Linked DNA regions of Homo sapiens. The protein of the gene in region 2 purifies or fractionates together with the protein of the main gene of each other region. This does not show direct contact. Each region holds a gene or a part of one and is shown on either strand. Other genes may lie near its edges.

Evidence for each region. The genes of interacting proteins can lie anywhere in the genome.
Region 1: the proteins of CDK8 (region 2) and MED31 purify together in Homo sapiens (affinity purification with mass spectrometry; 7 studies listed by BioGRID and IntAct, with this or other methods). This does not show direct contact.
Region 3: the proteins of CDK8 (region 2) and MED7 purify together in Homo sapiens (affinity purification with mass spectrometry; 9 studies listed by BioGRID and IntAct, with this or other methods). This does not show direct contact.

The regions. Positions count from the first base shown.
Region 1 is NC_000017.11:6,642,811-6,649,597, forward strand, and holds the end of MED31 (mediator of RNA polymerase II transcription subunit 31), read right to left. Parts: intron 1,850-6,787; coding exon 1,657-1,849; 3' UTR 501-1,656; downstream 1-500. Other genes in the region: TXNDC17 (thioredoxin domain-containing protein 17), read left to right, coding at 141-209. UniProt on the Homo sapiens protein: Component of the Mediator complex, a coactivator involved in the regulated transcription of nearly all RNA polymerase II-dependent genes.
Region 2 is NC_000013.11:26,347,048-26,356,032, reverse strand, and holds part of CDK8 (cyclin-dependent kinase 8), read right to left. Parts: intron 6,962-8,985; coding exon 6,851-6,961; intron 2,294-6,850; coding exon 2,153-2,293; intron 1-2,152.
Region 3 is NC_000005.10:157,136,924-157,140,857, forward strand, and holds the end of MED7 (mediator of RNA polymerase II transcription subunit 7), read right to left. Parts: intron 2,526-3,934; 5' UTR 2,509-2,525; coding exon 1,807-2,508; 3' UTR 501-1,806; downstream 1-500. UniProt on the Homo sapiens protein: Component of the Mediator complex, a coactivator involved in the regulated transcription of nearly all RNA polymerase II-dependent genes.

The DNA of each region.
Region 1 (6,787 bases), on a different chromosome or scaffold from region 2:
AAACTTGTTATAACTAGATGATAGTTTCTGAATTGCGTAATTTCTGTGTTCAAAGATGAGTGTCATTCAAGGCAGAACTCATTCCACTCCTAATAACGTTTTATAGAAGTAGTGAAGATTTGACTGTTTTTCTCTTACAGCCTCAAAAACTGGTAGAATCTGAGTGTCTTCAGGCCAACCTGGTGGAAATGTTGTTCTCTGAAGATTAAGATTTTAGGATGGCAATCATGTCTTGATGTCCTGATTTGTTCTAGTATCAATAAACTGTATACTTGCTTTGAATTCATGTTAGCAATAAATGATGTTAAAAAAACTGGCATGTGTCTAAACAATAGAGTGCTATTAAAATGCCCATGAACCTTTAGTTTGCCTGTAATACATGGATATTTTTAAGATATAAAGAAGTCTTCAGAAATAGCAGTAAAGGCTCAAAGGAACGTATTCTTGAAGGTGACGGAAATACCTAAAAACTCCTAAAGGTGCAGAGCACACCTTCCAAATCTCTCAAAAGATCAGTATCTTTTATTTTAAGTTATCTCCATCTGCAAAGCAACTGATGATATTCCTGAAACCCCTTCTTTGATTTTGGAATGTAGAACCTAACCTCACCACTGAAGGAAAGCACATGACCTCTAATCTAGCCTCTGCTTAATTCAGGCAGTTTTGTTTTGTTTAATAAAAAACAGACTCCTGAGCACTAGAAGCAGTTTGTTTTGCAGCTGTCTCAATGTGCTTTACTTGGGATGAGGCAGGTGGCGGAGAGCGGCCGGAAAGACTCTATAACCCAGTTCTGGGAAGAACTCCAAGCTGGGAGTCAGTCACACTGACTCTACCACTTACTAGCTGTGTAACCACAGGCAAGTTACTCACCCCGTCCAAACCTCAGTTTTCTCTTCTATAAACAAGGTTCTTAGAATAAAATGAGAATTCAAGGAAGCACTTAACATAGCACCTGGTTTGTGGTACCTCCCAAATCAATGGTAGCTTTCCCAAATGAACACAAGTATTTGAGGCTCCTCATGTTTGTTCTAAAGTCAAGAGTCCAGTTAGTAACTAACCACTAGTTGTCCTGCCATGACTAGGTCAAGTGAGGCCACAGTGATTCAGTGATTCTTAAAGCCACCTTGCAAAGCAGGTAATACAGTTATTTCCTGTCCTGCAGAATTCAAGAACCTTTATGCAGTTCCTGTCCTATGATTTAAAGAGGTCAGTGACTCCGCTACTCTCACTACATCTTAGAGTAGAGTGGTAGAGTAGTTGATCTGAGACAGTAAGGTTCCAGGAGATGGTCTTGCCCTACTATATGTCAGGAACAGCTAGCCTTAGAATTCAGTATACTTGGTGGCCCACCCCTACCCCATGCCCCAGTGCCTTATTTGGTCTAAAGCACCTAACTTTTCCATTCTTAATCAGCTGATTATGCTAAATGCGTAAAAAAGAAAAACACCTTACAAATCCACAGGGAAATCAAAGAACAATTCAGGTTTAACAGAAATAGTCTATTAACAATAAAAAGTTGGATGAAAAAGCACACTAAAGGTTCTAGGGGCTACCATAATAAAGGTAGATAGGAAGAGTTTTCATTTTTTTTGTCTTCACTGTACAAAAGAAATACATTATATACATGTATTAAGTGCCTCGTTTGTATCCAGTTTTTCATTTTCCCGATGTGTTATTTTGCTGTTGCTGCTCTGCCAAGGCTTGCTGAAGGCGCATCCGCTTCCGGGAATAGTGCTGCCAATGTAGAATCTGCTGTTCATCAATAAATTTCGCACACTGAGCATTCACCAGCTCCTTTCGGAAGTGTTCATATTGGAGCAGCTCTAACATGTGTAAACACTGAGGGTACCTGGGTTTAAGTTTGTAAGTGAATGAACAACATAATTTAGGTAAATAATGCCAAGGTATAATTCAGTTATTCTCTTAAAAACGATCTTGTAGCCTACCATTTCTATAACAGTAACTTAGTACACTCTGGTAGCATAGGGTTTTTTCCCCGATTAGTCATCAAAGGTCAGTGTTCAATATTTTCGAAAATGAGAAGGTTTAAGTTCAGAAAGATTAAATTAACTTGCTCAAGACCACACAACACAGTAACTGGTAAGCAGAGTGAAAATTTAGGGACAAACCATGCTATTCCCTTCTAGCGGTTTCCAACGTGAAGAACATGAACATATTTTAGTAATTATGTGTTTAATTGATAGTTACTCATTTTTCCTTCAATAGGGATAAAAAGACAACTTTCATTTAAAAGTGAGTGTGAAAGAGGACTATGCGCATACATTGTACTCTTGTTGTCCACAGGGATATACCAATTCTGAAATTAGATATACTCTAGGATTGGACAAGCAAATATACTGTGGATAAGGACAGCCAAATTTCTGGCTATCAGAAAAGGAGTTATAGACATGGAAAGGAAAAAGGCTAGAATGAACCCTGTGTTACTGAGCTGGTATTGAAAACATCAGTATGTACTTACGGCTTTTAATATAGACATAGAATAAACATGTATATGTGTGTGCATGTATACACATACATACATATATATATAGTTCTTGAGCTTTGTGTACTGACAGGGCCTAGAAGCAATGACACTGTGGTACTAATGAACACACAATGACCAGACTGTGGTTTCCAAGGAGCAGGTTTCCTTGGAGAAAAGGGTGATTCAGGGATAAGACAGGAAAAGTACAAGATGAGCCTGGAACATTACGTAGTGCCAGAAGAAAAAGTGCTAAAAATTCCTGGGAGGATCAAAAGTATTCAGGAGCCAACTTGAAGGGCCTCCCAATGGCCAAATCTGGAATACTTAGCGCAAGAAAATACATAATTCTAATTCATAATTCTACTAAAAATAAGAATCCAAAAGTCCACACTAAATGGATGTAAATTTCTTTAATAAAATAATAGGAAACAAGGGAATATAATTCCTTACAATCGAATTCCAAACTAATAAATGCAGAATGATAGAATTAGAAAATCATCACAGTAAAAAATGTTTCAGGCAATTATCTTCAAAAGATGCTAAAACAGGCAAAATACATGTAATATGATATTTACATAGTCTCAAAGGATTTCCCTATAAGATACTTATTAAATACACAAGGAAAAATAGCAACTTAATATGGAGAAACCTAGACGGTACCACCCTCAACCAAGTTACCAAAATTTACGTCACCAGTAGTGGGACAAATAGACTTCATGTGACTGCAGATATATGAAGGATACAAATCATTTCTGTCATAGTCATGGAAAAGAAAAGACCACTGAGATGAAAGGAGACTAAGAAGACATGACAGCAAAATGCAACATACGGGCCTAGACTGGATCCTGCACTACATACAGCACACCAGCAGAACAACTGGCAAAATGTGAATGAGGTCTGTAGATTAGGTAATAATATTAATGTGCTGATTTTTGCTGATTGTAGTGTTACACATTTGGAATACGTGGGTGAACAAAATACAGGAATTATCTTTACTATTTTTCCAGCTATTTTGTAAGTGAAATTATTTCAAGTTGAAAAGACATAAAAGCTAACAGACAATTAAAATACATTAACATATAGGAAGTGTGGGGAAAAGAGATCAGATTGTTCCTGTGTCTACGTAGAAAAGGAAGACATAAGAAACTCCATTTTGATCTGTACTAAGAAAAATTGTTCTGCTTTGAGATGCTGTTAATCTGTAAATTTAGCCCCAACTCTGTGCCCCCAGAAACATGTGCTATATTGAATCAAGGTTTAATGGATTTAGGGCTGTGCAGGATGTGCCTTGTTAACAATATGTTTGCAGGCAGTATGCTTGGTAAAAGCCATCGCCATTCTCCATTCTCGATTAACCAGAGACACAATGCACTGCGGAAGGCCGCAGGGACCCCTGCCCAGAAAAGCCTGGGTATTGTCCAGGTTTCCCCCAACTGAGACAGCCTGAGATATGGCCTCGTGGGAAAGGAAAGACCTTACATCCCCCAGCCCGACACCTGTAAAGGGTCTGTGCTGAGGAGGAGTAGTGAAAGAGGGAGGCCTCTTTGCAGTTGAGATAAGATGAAGGCTTCTGTCTCCTGCTCGTCCCTGGGAATGGAATGTCTTAGTGTAAAGTCGACCATTCCCATTCGTTCTATTCTGAGATAGGAGAAAACCGCCCTGTGGCTGGAGGCGAGATATGCTGGCAGCAATACTGCTTTGTTGCTCTCTGCTAGTTAGATATTTGTGTAAAGTGAAACATAAATCTAGCCTATGTGCACATCCAGGCACAGTACCTTTCCTTGAACTTATTCATGATACAGATTCCTTTGCTCACGTTTCCCTGCTGACCTTCTCGCCACCTGTTGCCCTGCTACACTCGCCTCGCCAAGACAGTAAAAATAATGATCAATAAATACTGAAGGAACTCAGAGACCGGCACTGGTGCGGGTCCTCGCATGCTGAGTGTGCCGGTCCCCTGGGCCCACTGTTCTTTCTCTATACTTTGTGTCTTATTTCTTTTCTCATTCTTTCATCTCCACCTGACGAGAAATACCCACAGGTGTGGAGGGGCAGGCCCCCTTCAGGAAGTATGCAGATAAAGCCAAAGTTGCACAAGTGATATGCAAATGACTAAAGTGTGGAAAATAGGATACTACAGCAATGCTTCTAAAACTTTAATGTGTATATGGGTCACTTCTTAAAATGCAGATTGAATCCTTAGGCCTGGAGTGGGGCCTGAGCTCTGCATTTCTAAAAAGCTCCCAAATGAAACCAATGCTACTGATGTGAACACCACATTGAATAGAGGGCTTAATACCATGCTTCTAAGATAGTAACTTCCAAGACAGCAAAGATTTGCTATCCACACACTAAAAATACACAGTTGCTCTAATTGTTGGCTGCTTATGCTAGAATGCTCTATTCACACCTGCCCTGGCTAACTCCCTTTCATGACAGCATTAGTAGTTAAAATGACCAGGATGTTATGTTCCAGCCAGGTGGCCTTTAACAAGGTACTTAACCTCTCTAAGGTTCAGTTTCTTCAACTGTAAAATAATGTGACAACCAAGAGAATGGTCTCAAGTAGCATTTAGTCAATAACTAGAATTTAGACATGCAGTGATTATATCAGAATACCTTAGATGACAATAAAGAATCATACTCTGATAGGCTACAAGTCAACAAGATGAAATAGAAGCAGTATAAAAGGGAAGTTCTGCATTTGGTGTTTTTAAAAAGAAACAACATAGGGAGAACCCAACAGCATGATGAAAATAAGAACTGAAGGATTTTAGTTGACATAATGCTTCCAGCAAGTCAACAATGTGATCCTCTTCCCCACTCCCACCCCCAAAAGTAATATAAACTTAAGTTGAATTAACAGAGGTGTATGACCACATGAAGAAAAGAAAGGACCTCTGGCCCACTGTACTCTGACCACACCTGAAGGCCTGTGTTTAGTTCTTGGCTGAACTGCATAAAGTACAACTGCCAAATATCCAAAGGAGGGAACCTCAACTCATGAGAACTCTGGACACCATGGCACAATGGCAGAGGGTAGTTGAGAAAAATAGATGGAAGAGAGATGTTATAGTGGCACCTACTGGCTATCAATGAAGCAGGCCAAGTGGTAGAAAGTGTCTCTTCCACCAGGTGGAAAGCAGCTAGTAGTGACAGCTGCTCTCAGCTTCAGCCCAGTTGTTGACTTGGGAGAATTAAGATCTATGGTTACTAGATCTTCCAGATTTGAAAGAGTAGCTGGAAATCTGCATTTGTTATATACAACTTTCTGATCTTTAAATGTTGGCAAGTATTAAAAAAACTAAAATCTTCTGCAGACTGAATAAAACACCCAAAAGGGGCTAATTTGCAGTCTCTCTTGAATGTAAATATCTGGAAGGCTGTTGTCCTCAAGAGGGTATAGAATGGTTCTAGCTTCATCCAGGGACAAACAGACTGGGGCTACAAGGAGGTACATTATATCACAATATAAGGAAGAACTTTCTAATATCTGGCTAACAATCGAATCAGCTGTCCCTGACAGAGTAACACGGGCTCAATGGAAACCTCCAGAGTGTAGATGACCATCTCTCGGCAACGTTGTGGGTAAGATTAAACTTGTTGGTGGCTAAGGCTTCCAACACTGAGTCTGTAAATCTACATACATACAATATTCGTTGAAGTCTACTTTTCTTAAAAGTCTGTTCTTTGGATTATTAAATGGATAAAAAGCCAGAAAAGGTGCAAACGGTCCTGCAGGCAACATAAGACGTATGTGCTTCGTGAGTCAATTGTTATTGGACACAGAAAAGTGACTTTGAGAGAAGTTTGAAACATTTTCCTCTCAAACTTTTTTTTTTTTTTAAAGGTTCATTATTGCTTTCTACCTGCTTAAGACAAAGCAGGGGTGTGAGTTCAAGGTGGGTTGGTTTTTTTTGTTTTTTTTGTTTTTTTTTTTTAACCATTAAAAGGGAATTGCTTTGTGGTTATAATATGTTTCTTGCAACTTAGTAAGCCTTAACATGAAAGTGTCTGCTGAACGACCTGAATGGTAAATATATATATATAAATGAGTTAATGCATATGAAGCATTTAGCACTGTTCCTGGCAAATAAGAGGCCTTAAATAAAAGACAGCAACTCTAAGACTCAGGTAAGATCACCTCCTTCAAATAACCCCAGAAACACCTTCCTTACAGATACCCTCTTTTAATTTCAGCCCATGGCTTATGCTACTACATTTACAGATTGTGAGTTCTTAGGGACCAGAAACCTGGTGAGATGGGAAGGGTGGTAAAAGACAAGGTCAGAAAAGGCAGGG
Region 2 (8,985 bases):
GCTTTACCATAAGAGAGATAAAAGAAACTCGGTATCATAATTTTCACTACCATACTTAATACTAATCTAAGTGGCTTAAGTATATTTATATTATTACATGAAATTTAAATATTGGTTTTAAAAACCAGTCTGTATTTACCTAATATACATATGTATTTCAAGTGAAAAAAAAATTTACAAGAAAAAGAAAATGTAGAGCTATCTTAGCATAACTGACTCTACGGGGAAAAAAATGTCCTTAAGCCACAGTTTTTTCTTTTAGAGATCATAAAAAGGACTGGTAGCTCAAAAGTAGAAATGTTTTTCCCTAACTTGACTCCACCCCAATGGCCAAAATTTATTTTGAGCTTCACAAAATGCCAAAGGATTTGTCTTATTTCTGTTATGTAAATCTATTTTTTGTTTTCTTTTATTTTTTAGAGATGGAGTTTCGCTCTGTCGCCCAGGCTGGAGTGAAGTGGCGCGATCTTGGCTCACTGCAACCTCAGCTTCCTGCGTTCAAGTAATTCTCTGCCTCAGCCTCCCGAGTAGCTGGGATTACAGGTGCCCACCACCACACCCAGCTAATTTTTTGTATTTTTAGTAGAGACGGGGTTTCACCATCTTGGCCAGCCTGATCTTGAACTCCTGACCTCGTGATCCACCCGCCTTGGCCTCCCAAAGTGCTGGGATTATAGGCATGAACCACTGTGCCTGGCCTGTAAATCTATTTTTATAAGTGAAATATTCTAACTGTATTAAAAATAAAAGTTTGCATAAAGAAACAAGTTCAACCAAATTTCTGCTGTTACTGGTCCTAGTCTAAATGCTTTGTAGGTATGAGAACTGGAGATAAAGTAACTAACATCAAATGTACTACAAGGCAATTCCCTAAAGCTAGAAGAAAGAAGTATAAACTGTGCCACTGGAACAGCACATTGAAGGCCAGAGACTAAATCCACTAAATTTGTGAAGAACATCTTTGCGAGAGACCAGATGGGCTCCGCCTCATAGCCTACAGGATATTTCCTTTGTATACAGGTGATTAGAGACAAAATAATCACTTTTAGCATTGTGTTTATATTTGTTTGAAATGAAGGTGCCTTTATAAACCTTATTATATAGTTACTATCTTTACAAAGAAAAGAACTATAAAAGCAATGTAATTATGTAGTAAGAAAGGGCAATTTGAAGTTTAGGTAATTTAAATCCATGAAAATTTAATGAATAATAATATGCTAGACCAGCAGTCCCCAACCTTTTTGGCATCAGGGACCAGTTTCATGGAAGAAGTTTTTCCACGGAGCGGGGTGGGAGGGGATGGTTTCAGTATGAAACTGTACCACCTCAGATCATAAGGCATTAGCTAGATTCTCATAAGGAGCGTGCAATCTAGATCCCCCGCATGTGCAGTTCACAATAGGGTTCTGGCTCCTATGAGAATCTAATGCTGCCACTGATCTGACAGGAGGCGGAGCTCAGGTGGTAATGCTCACCCACCGCTCACCTCCTGCTGTGTGGCCTGGTCCCTAATGAGCCATGGACTGGTCTGTGGCCTGGGGGTTGGGGACCCCTGTGCAAGATGGGTGAAAAAAGGCATAAATGACTTTGCAACGTAAAATTAAAAAGTCAGTTTCTTAAGTTTTTAAATTCTCAAAAGTTCAATGCACCTGAACACAGCAAGGCTTCTAATAATATACTTCAATTATGATTAATAAAGGTGATTGGCCAACAGACTGCTAATATAGAGGGGCTTAAAATATAAGCATATTGAATTAACATTTTCCTTTTCTAATATGTAAATTAGTATGCAGTAGGCTCCCAAAATTTTATTTTCAAGTTATTATAAATATATAAATTTCTACAGTTGGCCTTGTATCTAATAATCAATTTAAAGCAAGCCAATGCTTTATTTATGAACTTAAAAGGAAACAGAAGCTTAGGAACACAAATGTCTCTTCTTTCACTTTGAAATAAATACCATCTAGTGTATGTCAGAGAAGCAGGAGGCATTATATAAAAACACTACTAGGCCATGTTTTGAGAAGGTAGCATTCTCACTACTTCTATAAGGTTTGCAGGCCTACATATAGCACTGGTATCTACAGACGACTAGAAAAGTATCCAACTGTAATGCATCTTTCTAGTTTAAACCAATTACAGGTCAACTTACCAAATCTCTGTGCAACACCCAGTTAGCATGCAGGTAGTGAATACCATCTAGGATCTGATATAATAGTGACTTCACCATTCCCCGAGGTAACTGAACTGGCTTCTTGTTTGCTTTAGAAGCTCTGTGAAACTTGATTATATGCTGAAAGAAAGAAAAAAATATCAACAGAAGCTTAAAAAAAGGAAAAGATAATTTGATGTATAATATTTTCCTAACAGAAAAAGAAACACTCAGGGATTCCCATAGATATTGAAAATATAATTTCGTACTCTGCTGAATAACATAAACAACTTTAAAATTCCCTAATAACTGGGGCTAAAATTCCATTTCCTACCCATATGACAGCATTTCAGGAGATAAATTATCACAATAGGGAATCAGAAAATATTGTGCTTTTATTTTTAAAGCATAATTAAAAATCAATTACTTTCAGAGTATACTTGATTCCTGTTTATCTGGTAGATAAAATGAAAAAAAAAAAAGAACAAAATTCAAGAGATACTTCTGGCTGGTTGACATAGCATAGAATTAGAACCTATTTATGACACAGGTTATAAAGAAAGCAAGTGGGGAGATGCTTCAATAAAATACACACAAGCACAAAGAAATGATATACCAGTTCACAATGGAAAAATGTAAAAATGGGAAAGATTCTGAGGAAAATAAAAACTGCCTTGTACCATCCATCAAAGCTTTCTATGTATAATGTTGTTAGACATCCAGTAAAACAAAGCACAACTTTATACATAGAAAAATTACTTTATGAATAAATGTGCCTTACAAGTTTTTTCTTGAAAAGTTTCAAATGCTCTTGATAGGACTCATTTTCTTAATTAGATCACTCTTAAATTGCAGGAAAATCTATAACTCGGCTGCAGTAAACTATGCCTTGCACACCACTGTACATATCCCTGAACCTAATATTGCACAGAGCAGACCCTTGGCCAATACATGTAAGTAAATATTAAGCATGTTCTTGAAATTAGTAGACATAATAAAAATAAGAGATATTTAACATTATAAGTTAACATTTTCACTTGCTATTTTCTTATGATATACAGAATATGACACAAGTAAGGAATAACTAATGATTAATGAATAAAGGAGCTTTACTCTCCAAGGTAAAAATATATAGCAAATATCTACGAGAAGGTAAAGTGTAGCAGTTTGCACATATGTAGTATGACTAATCTAAATTAGCAGCATTAATCTACTTTAATTTTCTTCTCAGTCTTTTTTTCAAAGTATTTAATAGCAGGCAAACAAAACAGAGCTACAACAATTTAATAATCTAGGCTGTTTTGTCACCTGTCCTAAAATATGATGTGACAATCAAGTCTGTTCTCCTTAAGAAGAAGATTCTTGGGCCGGGCATGGTGGCTCACGCCTGTAATCCCAGAACTTTGGGAGGCTGAGGCGGGTGGATCACGAGGTCAGGAGATCAAGACCATCCTGGCTAACACGGTGAAACCCCGTCTCTACTAAAAAATACAAAAAATTAGCCGGGAGTGGTGGCAGGCACCTGTAGTCCCAGCTACTCGGGAGGCTGAGGTAGGAGAATGGCGTGAACCTGGAAGGCGGAGCTTGCAGTGAGTGGAGATCCTGCCACCGCTCTCCAGCCTGGGCGACAGAGCGAGACTCCATCTCAAAAACAAACAAACAAAAAAAACAAGAAGAAGATTCTTTGGCTCTCTCCAAGCTTAATAAAAACAGGTAAAATAAATATAAATAAAAATAAAATAGGTTAATTTTTTGAAAAAAAAAAAATTAAAACTCTGCCGCAGTAAGAATCAAAGGAACAAATATGTAGGAGAGGTAAGGTAATTAATCAATTTCATATATATTTCTTCATGTACACTTTCATTAGAGTATTACAAGTGACTTTTTTTACCAATGTTTTAAAATGACAAATCCTACTGTCATTTTCTTTATATTCCAGGGCTACATAACAAATGCAAAATATACATACCATGAAATCTCACCAACGCCTAAGTGATTTTTAAAAATAACTATTTTTATTGCGACTGCCTTGTTACCCTCTGCTGCCTAACCCCTACCAATTCACTTCAACATTCCAATTAAAATAGATAAAGGAGTGGGTTTTAGTAGGCTAAATTATCATTTGTTTTTTATGAAAATGAACATTAAAAATATTTATTTGGCTTAAATATTATTAAGATGATGATAAAGCTAATGAACTAGTTATATGCACTGTACAATATTACCCACAATAAAATTTGCTGAAGTATAATCATTGTACCTACATGTAAAATTAAATATTACAAACTAGCAGCTAGAAATCACATTGAGTGAAATATTATACTATCTTCTATGCTCTACTGTGGTTTATCACAAATCTTGTTTATAAACCAGCCTGGAAAATGCCTTAAGTTTAAATTATATGACTTTATTTCTTATGAGGCTCAGCATAGTGAGTGTTCAATTTAATACTGGCCACGCTGATTTAACAGGGTTGATCTGATTAGATTTCTTTTAAAATAGAAGAACAGAAGAACCAAAGATTTAAAAAAAAAGAAGAAATTAATAACCAGCATGAACTTTGGAAAGAGTTTCATAAAAGAGAGAAAATTTCATGTATACATAATAAAAAGCATAGCCATGCTAATTTAGTAAATATAGATTAGTATGCAAATCAATACAATGTTTAAAGACATTATTAAATATCATTTAAAAAGCAGTTCACAGGAGTATAGTAATTCTTAATGAATTAACACAAGGTAATGTTAGATGTTTAGTTTACTTGTTTCTTAAACTATAATCTGTATTAACAGATGTTCTCTATACAGATTGATAAGAATGTCAATTTTGTTACTATGTTTCAAAATTACTTTGGCTATCCTATTATAGATTTTCTATATATATATCTCAAAGTTTTATCTGCAAGGTAACGTTTCAGATTTTTAAAAAATATATAAATGTTATATTTAATAAAAGAGCAAATTTTATAGTTACCTTAGAGTTCCTCAAATACCAATTTAAAAAATAATCTGCTTAGTAAACTGCAAAATACTGAGGCTGGTGTTTGTATTTCAGCTACTCAGACAAGATAAAATTAAGTTCTTATTTTACAGTAATTTTTTTCAATATAGCATCATTTTCTGCAATGCATTAGATAAACTAATAAACTGGCTGGGCTCAGTGGCTCAGGCCTGTAATCTCAGCACTTTGGGAGGCCGAGGTGGGCAGATCACCTGACATCAGGAGTTAAGAGACCAGCCTGGCCAACATGGTGAAACCCTGTCTCTACTAAAAATACAAAAATTAGCCGGGCTGGAGTGCAACAGTGCAAACAGGACCCACTGCAGCCTCGACTTCCTGAGCTTCAGCCCCATGAACAGCTGGGACCACAGCATGTGCCACTGAGCCCAGCTAATTTTTTTTATTTTTTGCAGAGACAGGGTCTTGCCATGTGACCCAGGCTTGTCTCAAACACTTTGGCTCAAGTGATCTTCCTGTCTTGGCCTCCCAAAGTGTTGGGACTACAGGTGTGACCCACTACACTTGGCCTAAAACTATTCTTATCATAGGTCAGAAAACAAAGAACTAAAAGTCCCAAGAGATATTAAAATTTATTTTCACACGAATCTTATTTTGTAATAGAGCTCTCATCCACAAAAAATTCCTCCAATGCAAGATTATGCCCAATTCAAGTAAGTACAATACAGTCATGCATCACTTAATGAAGGGATACATTCTGAAAAATGTGTCGTTAGGCAATTTTGCAGTTGTGTAAACATCACAGACTGTACTTACACAAACCTAGATGATAGACTCTACTACAAACCTAGGCTATATGTTATAGCCTCCTGCTCCTAGGCTACAAACCTGTACATGTTACTGTACTGAATAAGGAAGGCAATTGTGACACAATAGTAAATAAGTGTGTTATCTAAACATATGTAAACATAGAAAAGGTACAGTAACAATATGGTACTATAATCTTAGGAGACCACTATCATATATGCAGTCCCTAGTTGACAATAACATTATATGGCGCATGACTATACTGTATTGAACTACTGCCACTGAAAATAAGAATTAGGATATTAAATTCAATTGTGAATAGTTAATAATTAATAACAGTTTCCTACATTTGTATATTTATAAAACTTTTCAAATACAAGATTGTTCCTCAGAAAAACGTTGTTAAAAAAGGCAAGAAAGTATTACATTTTACAGATGGGGTAAACTACAGCTTCAAAGCCATTAAAAGACTTGCTTAATGCTATACGACAAATAATGGTAGAACTATTAGATCTCTCCAAAGATAGCATATTCGTCCTCCTACATGAGGATACCACCTTCTCATTTTATGTTCCCTTTATACAACGAAATAAAAGGAAATATGCTACTTTTCTATTTTAGAGCAAAATTTTATATATATTAGTTACTTTTTATTTTATCAAAAAACTATATGAAGCAATATTGAATAGTTGTTGAACACTCTTTAGATTCTATTGTTTTCTTTAGTATCTGTTAAAAGATCAAAGTGACAATATTGAAAAGTAATAATACAAAGTCAAATACTCTAGCCTTCGTCATGCCACCAACCACACTCTATGAGGTTACTTTTATTTTAAAAACATAAGTCTCATAATAAGCAGAACACCTAACTGTTTTTAGTTACTCTTAACAATCCCTGACTGTTTGCTCATGTCTGCCAGCAATTCACCTTACCCAGAGGTCATGTTCAGCATAGTCAAACAGAAGCCACACCTTCCTATCAGCATGAGACAGAAACACCTTTTGAAGAGAAATGACGTTTGGATGCTTAAGCTCTCGAAGTAACTGCAAAACAAAGGAGATGCATTAACTATTTCTGTCACAAAAATAATGTAAAAAACCCCACACCATTTGTAATTCAAAGGCAATACAAACCCACAGGTAAACAATCTTAAACATCTAATAAGCACCCACACAATTCTGAGACGGATACTTCAGTAACAAATGAGAAGATATCTGTGAGGAAAAGACACTGAACAGGTATTATCTGAGTAAATCTATTTTGTTGTTGTTTGGTTGGTTATTTTAATTTTTTGATTGTGGTAAAATATATCTAACATAAAAAGACCATTTTAATCATTTTTAAGTGTACAATTCAGTGGCATCCTATAAGTATATTCACAATGTTCTGCGATCACCACCACTATCCATTTTAGAATTTTTTTTGTCATCCCAAACAGAAACTCTGAATCCATTAAACCAGCGGTTCCCAACCTTTTTGGCATCAGAAACCATTTTTGAGGAAGACAAATTTTCCACGGATAATGGGGTGGAGGTGCAGGGCGGGGGCTGGGGGAAGGGGCAGATGGTGGATGGTTTCAAGATGAAACCGTTTCACCTCAGATCATTCATTAGGCATTAGATTCTCATAAGGAGCATGCAACCTAGATCCTTCACATGCGCAGTTCACAATAGTGTTCAAGCTCCTATGAGAATCTAATGCCACTGCTAATCTGACAGGAGGCAGAGCTCAGGTGGTAATGCTCGCTTGCCTGTGGCTCACCTCCTGCTGTACGGCCCAATTCCTAACGTACCGGTGCTGACGCAGGGACCCCTGCGTTACACAATAATCCCACCGCCTTTTTCCCCAAGGCTCTGGTAACCTCTACTCTACTATCTGTCCCTAAGAATCTTCCTAATCTAGATATTTCATGTAAGTGGAACCATACAATATGTATCCTTTCATGCCAGGCTTATTTCACTTAGCCTATTTCATTCTTTATGGATAAATATACTCCACTCTATGCATATCTATATATATATCTATATAGATATATATATAGATATCACATTTTGTTTATCCATTCATCTGTTGATGTTCATGGATTGTTTTCACCTCTGGTTATTGTGATTAATGCTGCTATGAACAGTGGTATACACTATCTGATGAAAGTCCCTGCTTTCAATGCTTTGAGCATAAACCTAAAAGTGGAAATCCTGGATCAAATGATTGCTCTGTGTTTAACTTTCTGAGAAACCACCAAACTTGCAGCTGTACCATTTTACATTCCCATCTGCAATGTATGAAGGTTCCAATTTCTTCATATCCTCACCAACACTGGTTATTTCTCCCTTTTTTCCCTTAAAAATTAACATATATCCTAATGAGTATGAAGTAGTATCTCACTATGGTTTTGGTTTGCATTTGCCTAGTCAATAATGGTGTCGAACATCTTTTCATGTGCTTACTGACCATTTGTAGATCGTCTTTGGAGAAATGTCTATTTAGTATGTCTTTTGCCCATTTTTGAATCAGGTTGTTTTGTTGTTGCTGCTGAGTTGCAGGAGTTCTTTACATAGTCTAGATACTAATCCCTTATCAAATATATGATTTATAAAACTTTCTCCCATTCTGCAAGTTGTCTAGGCTTTGACATCACATAACAATTGAACTTGAAACAAATCTGTAGTTTGTAATCCTTTTTAGAAAATATCAAAGAATATTTGCAACATTAGAAGATGCAACATTCATTAACATCAATTATCATATGAAAATTAAGTTCAGCAACCCTGTGAGATACAGCACCTAATTTCAGGCATTTAAATTACATAGTAAAGTTGATTAAAATTTTGTAACTTTTCATAAAATAACAAAGAACGTAGAGAGAAGCATCCAGGAGAGCATATTTTCATGGGTTTGTGCTTTCTCATCTCATAAAAGGATGTTATTTTATTTAAAATATTTTGTCTCCTTATCTTATGATAACCAAAGTGGCCTAACAATCCATCCAGTAAAAAAGCACCCCTAACCCTGCCAAGCAAAAACAAAAACAACTGCAACAACAAGAAAAAGCCTCTCATGAAGCCCA
Region 3 (3,934 bases), on a different chromosome or scaffold from region 2:
TCCCTATGCTAGAAACCAGGGGCTAAGGAAGAAATAAAAAAGTAGACATCTGGGGAAAGGCATTGCCTCTCAATGGTTCTTTTTTGTTTTTGAGATGGAGTTTCGCTCTTGTTGCCTAGGCTGGAGTGCAATGGTGCAATCTCAGCTCACCACAACCTCTGCCTCCCAGATTCAAGTGATTCTCCCTGCCTCAGCCTCCCGAGTAGCTGGGATTACAGGCATGCGCCACCAAGCCCAGCTAATTTTGTATTTTAGTAGAGATGGGATTTCCCCATGTTGGTCAGGCTGGTCTCGAACTCCTGACTTCAGGTGATCCACCAGCCTCAGCCTCCCGAAGTGCTGGGATTACAGGAGTGGGCCACTGCACCCAGCCTCAATGTTTCTTAATCTTGAGCATGTATCATAATCACATAGGCTTCTTAAAATACAGCTTGCTGGGACCTACACCCAGAAGTTTCTGGTTCAAAAGGTCTGGGATGGAGCCAGAGAACCCTCATTTATTTTTTATTTTTCTGAACCTACGGATTATACTAAAACTTTTATTTCTAGTAAGTCCCCAAGTGATACCAATGCTGCTGGTCCAGGACCACACACTTTAAGAACCACGGGCCTACATTAAGAAAACGGCAGGCAGAGATCCTCAGACACAAGGTCAACTCTCCACTAACACCTTGGTGGAAGAGCAGATGGACAGTCGGGGGAAGAAGAGAAGAAAGTGCTCATATAAAGTCCAATTAGCTAGGGGCAGAGTGGAGTTACTGAAAGGAAGACTTAGTCCTCACGGTCATTCAAAGAACCAGACTGACAATCTTTGCCATCTTCGGTGGCTTCCAAACTTATCCTGGATACGACCGTCCAACCAGCAGCTGGGAGAAGAGAATGGAGGATCATGCAAGAAATGTTTATGGGGCAAGCCTGGATTCCTATGCCCACATTTCACCGCCTACGACTTAGTCATATGTTCTCACAGAGATGCTGGGAGTAGGGAAATGTCCCTGGCTGGATTGCCACATCTTGACAACATATCTTCAAAGAGCAAGAATCTTTGGTAGACACCTAGCAGTCTCTGCCATCAAACCCCTTTCCCATTGTGGACTTAAACAAGTCTGAGCTTAGCTTTAAAGAAAATGTATAGCTAATGACACAGACATCTTAATTACTAAAATTAATGTCTGTAACTTAAAGTGACCAAAGGACTTATTACCTGAGTGACTGGAAAAAAAAACAACAATTTATGGGACTTCCCTGCAAGAGTCCATTCAGGATAGGGAGAAAAGACTGAGCTAGTGGGTTTACAGAAGCAGTCATGAGGAAAAAATGAAGTTTCTATTTTATAACTCTACTGGGCTCCTCTCTATCAACATGTTATGCTACTTTTTGGAGCTTAAGCAAAATTTTTAATGGAATAAGTCTAAAGATTTCATAGTTTTACATGTAGAGAGCTTAATATCCATTTATCTATCATTCTTAAAGCAAATGCTAAATCCCCTTTTCAAAGACGAAAACTTTGCTATTATTGAGGTTATCATCAAAGTTTTACTGCAACTCTAAAACATAGGAATGTCCCATACAACAGCAGCTAACACTTTGCTTTTTAAAGTGATTCTTCTTAGTGCAGGGACACTCATTTGTCTATGCTTGTTATACAGCGAAATTACTGCCTATGACATCTCATAATTGAAAAATTTGGAGTCAAGATTAAAGCTGTTTACATTTTTAGTGAAACTTCTCTTAAGACTGTCCAAAAGAAAATGAACTAATATATGATGCTATTATCAAAAGGAAAAAAAGAAAAAGAAACATCTTTCATGGTCTTTCATTCATCTCATCAATTAGGACACACAAGGCAGCATCTTTCTCTATAATCTGATCTCTCCTATGACCTGAATTTTCTCTTTGATGTTCATTCTGTCCAGTACAATTGTTGCTATCATCAGCATCCATTGGTTCAGTTTTTACTCTCATTCCTGCTTCTGAATGAGGCAAATCATCAGGCAAAGAAGCCAAGCAATTCTGAATCATTTCAATTACTCGTTCCAGGTGCTTTTGAAATCTCTCAGCTGTTTCAAGCCGTTGACGTTTCTGGACCTCCATCATGACTCTCAAGGTCTCTCTTGCTTGGTGGGGTCGGTATTCATTTATAAGATGATGCACGTGTACAAAAAGCAGCTTAAGATCTTCTAGTTTCTCTTCTCGTTTTATACTCCCAGGGCTCCTTATTAAAATATCTAAAAGGTCCAAGAAATTAATAAGGATAGACATATTAAGTTTTCTCAGTTCTTTCTTGTGATCAAACTGCATAGGATGAAGCCGTTCGATGCCCTGACTTTCCAAAGGGCGGATGATAAGATCATCACATTGGAACTGATTGCCAAACATCATGTAACTGTCTTTTATTGGAGGGGGAGGCTTGGGAGCTAAGCCTTCTTGAATATTTTCATCCGTATATTCCTTGATATATTGCATTGGAGGTGGTGGAAGTGCACTCACTTGCTGTGGTTCACCCATTGTGGACTATCAAGAACCTATGGACACAGACCAAAGATTTATTAGAGCCACAAGACAAACCTGTTACATTTCATAACTACAGATGGAATATTTTCTTCCTTTTCTTCCAGCAGTTTGGGGCCGAAGACAAGATGATCTCCTTGGTTTCTAAAACTAACATTTATGATAGGGAAAGTCTGCCATCTTTTCTAAGTAGGCATTATATTCTCAACCATTCACATATTTTCCATTCTCTCTCTAATAATTTCATCAGCATTAAAAAATATGTAGCATCCTCTCATCTCTAAAGAAAATCTTCTGGACTCCATGCCCCTCACCACTTATGCCCCATTTCTTTACTCTTCCATAACCAAACTACACAGGCTGTCTCCCAATCTCATATCACAATCACTTTTGTTTTATGTTATAGATTTATTTCCAATAGCAAACACTTACTTGTATCTCTCATAAACACTCTGACAAAATTAACATTGCTAAATCCTAAACACATTATTATCCAAAGTTCCTGAATGAAATGATGATTCAGTTCCATACCCTTTTTGTCACAGTATACTATGCAATTTTATATGGACACATTAACTTTTGTTTGTTTTTTGAGATGGAGTCTTGCTCTGATGTCCAGGCTAGAGTGCAGTGGTGCAATCTCAGATCTCAGCTCACTGCAACCTCCGCCTCCTGGGCTCAAGCAATTCTCCTGCCTCAGCCTCCTAAGTAGATGGGATTACAGGCGTGCACCATGTCTGGCTAATTTTTGTATTTTTAGTAGAGACGGGATTTTGCCATGTTGGCCAGGTTGGTCTCTTTACTCCCCATCTCAGGTGATCCGCCCACCTTGGCCTCCCAAAGTGCTGGGATTACAGGCGTGAGCCACCACGCCTGGCCTGTATGGACACATTAACTTCTCTACAACTATCACAGAAATGTCAAACCCCAGGTTCAAACCCAGTATCTATGGCCATAATAACCTCTACTTATTCTACCTTAAGCCTAGGTATACCATCCAATGAGAAGATCCTTAAGTGCTCCTTTAGATTGGTGTTATCAGAGTTTCAAGATATAACACACTCTAACATCGGGTGGGGCAAGTATCCTACTAGAAGCAATATTATACTTAGAATTCGTGAGGTACTGAGGGCAGCTGTGGCGCAGCCCTGAGTTTCCACTATGCCACAGTGGTGCATAGGATGATGCAGCCTCGCCCTCCTAGGCTCAAGCGATCCTCCCACCTCAACCTCCCAAGCAGCTGGGACTACAGGCATGTCACCAAGCCCGGCTAATTTTTGTATATTTTGTAGAGACAGAGTTTTGCCATGTTACTCAGGCTTGTTTCAAACTCCTGAGCTCAAGCAATCCTCCTGCCTTGGCCTCCCAAAGTGCTGGGATTACAGGCGTGAGCCACCACACCCAGACATTTTAAAACTTTTAA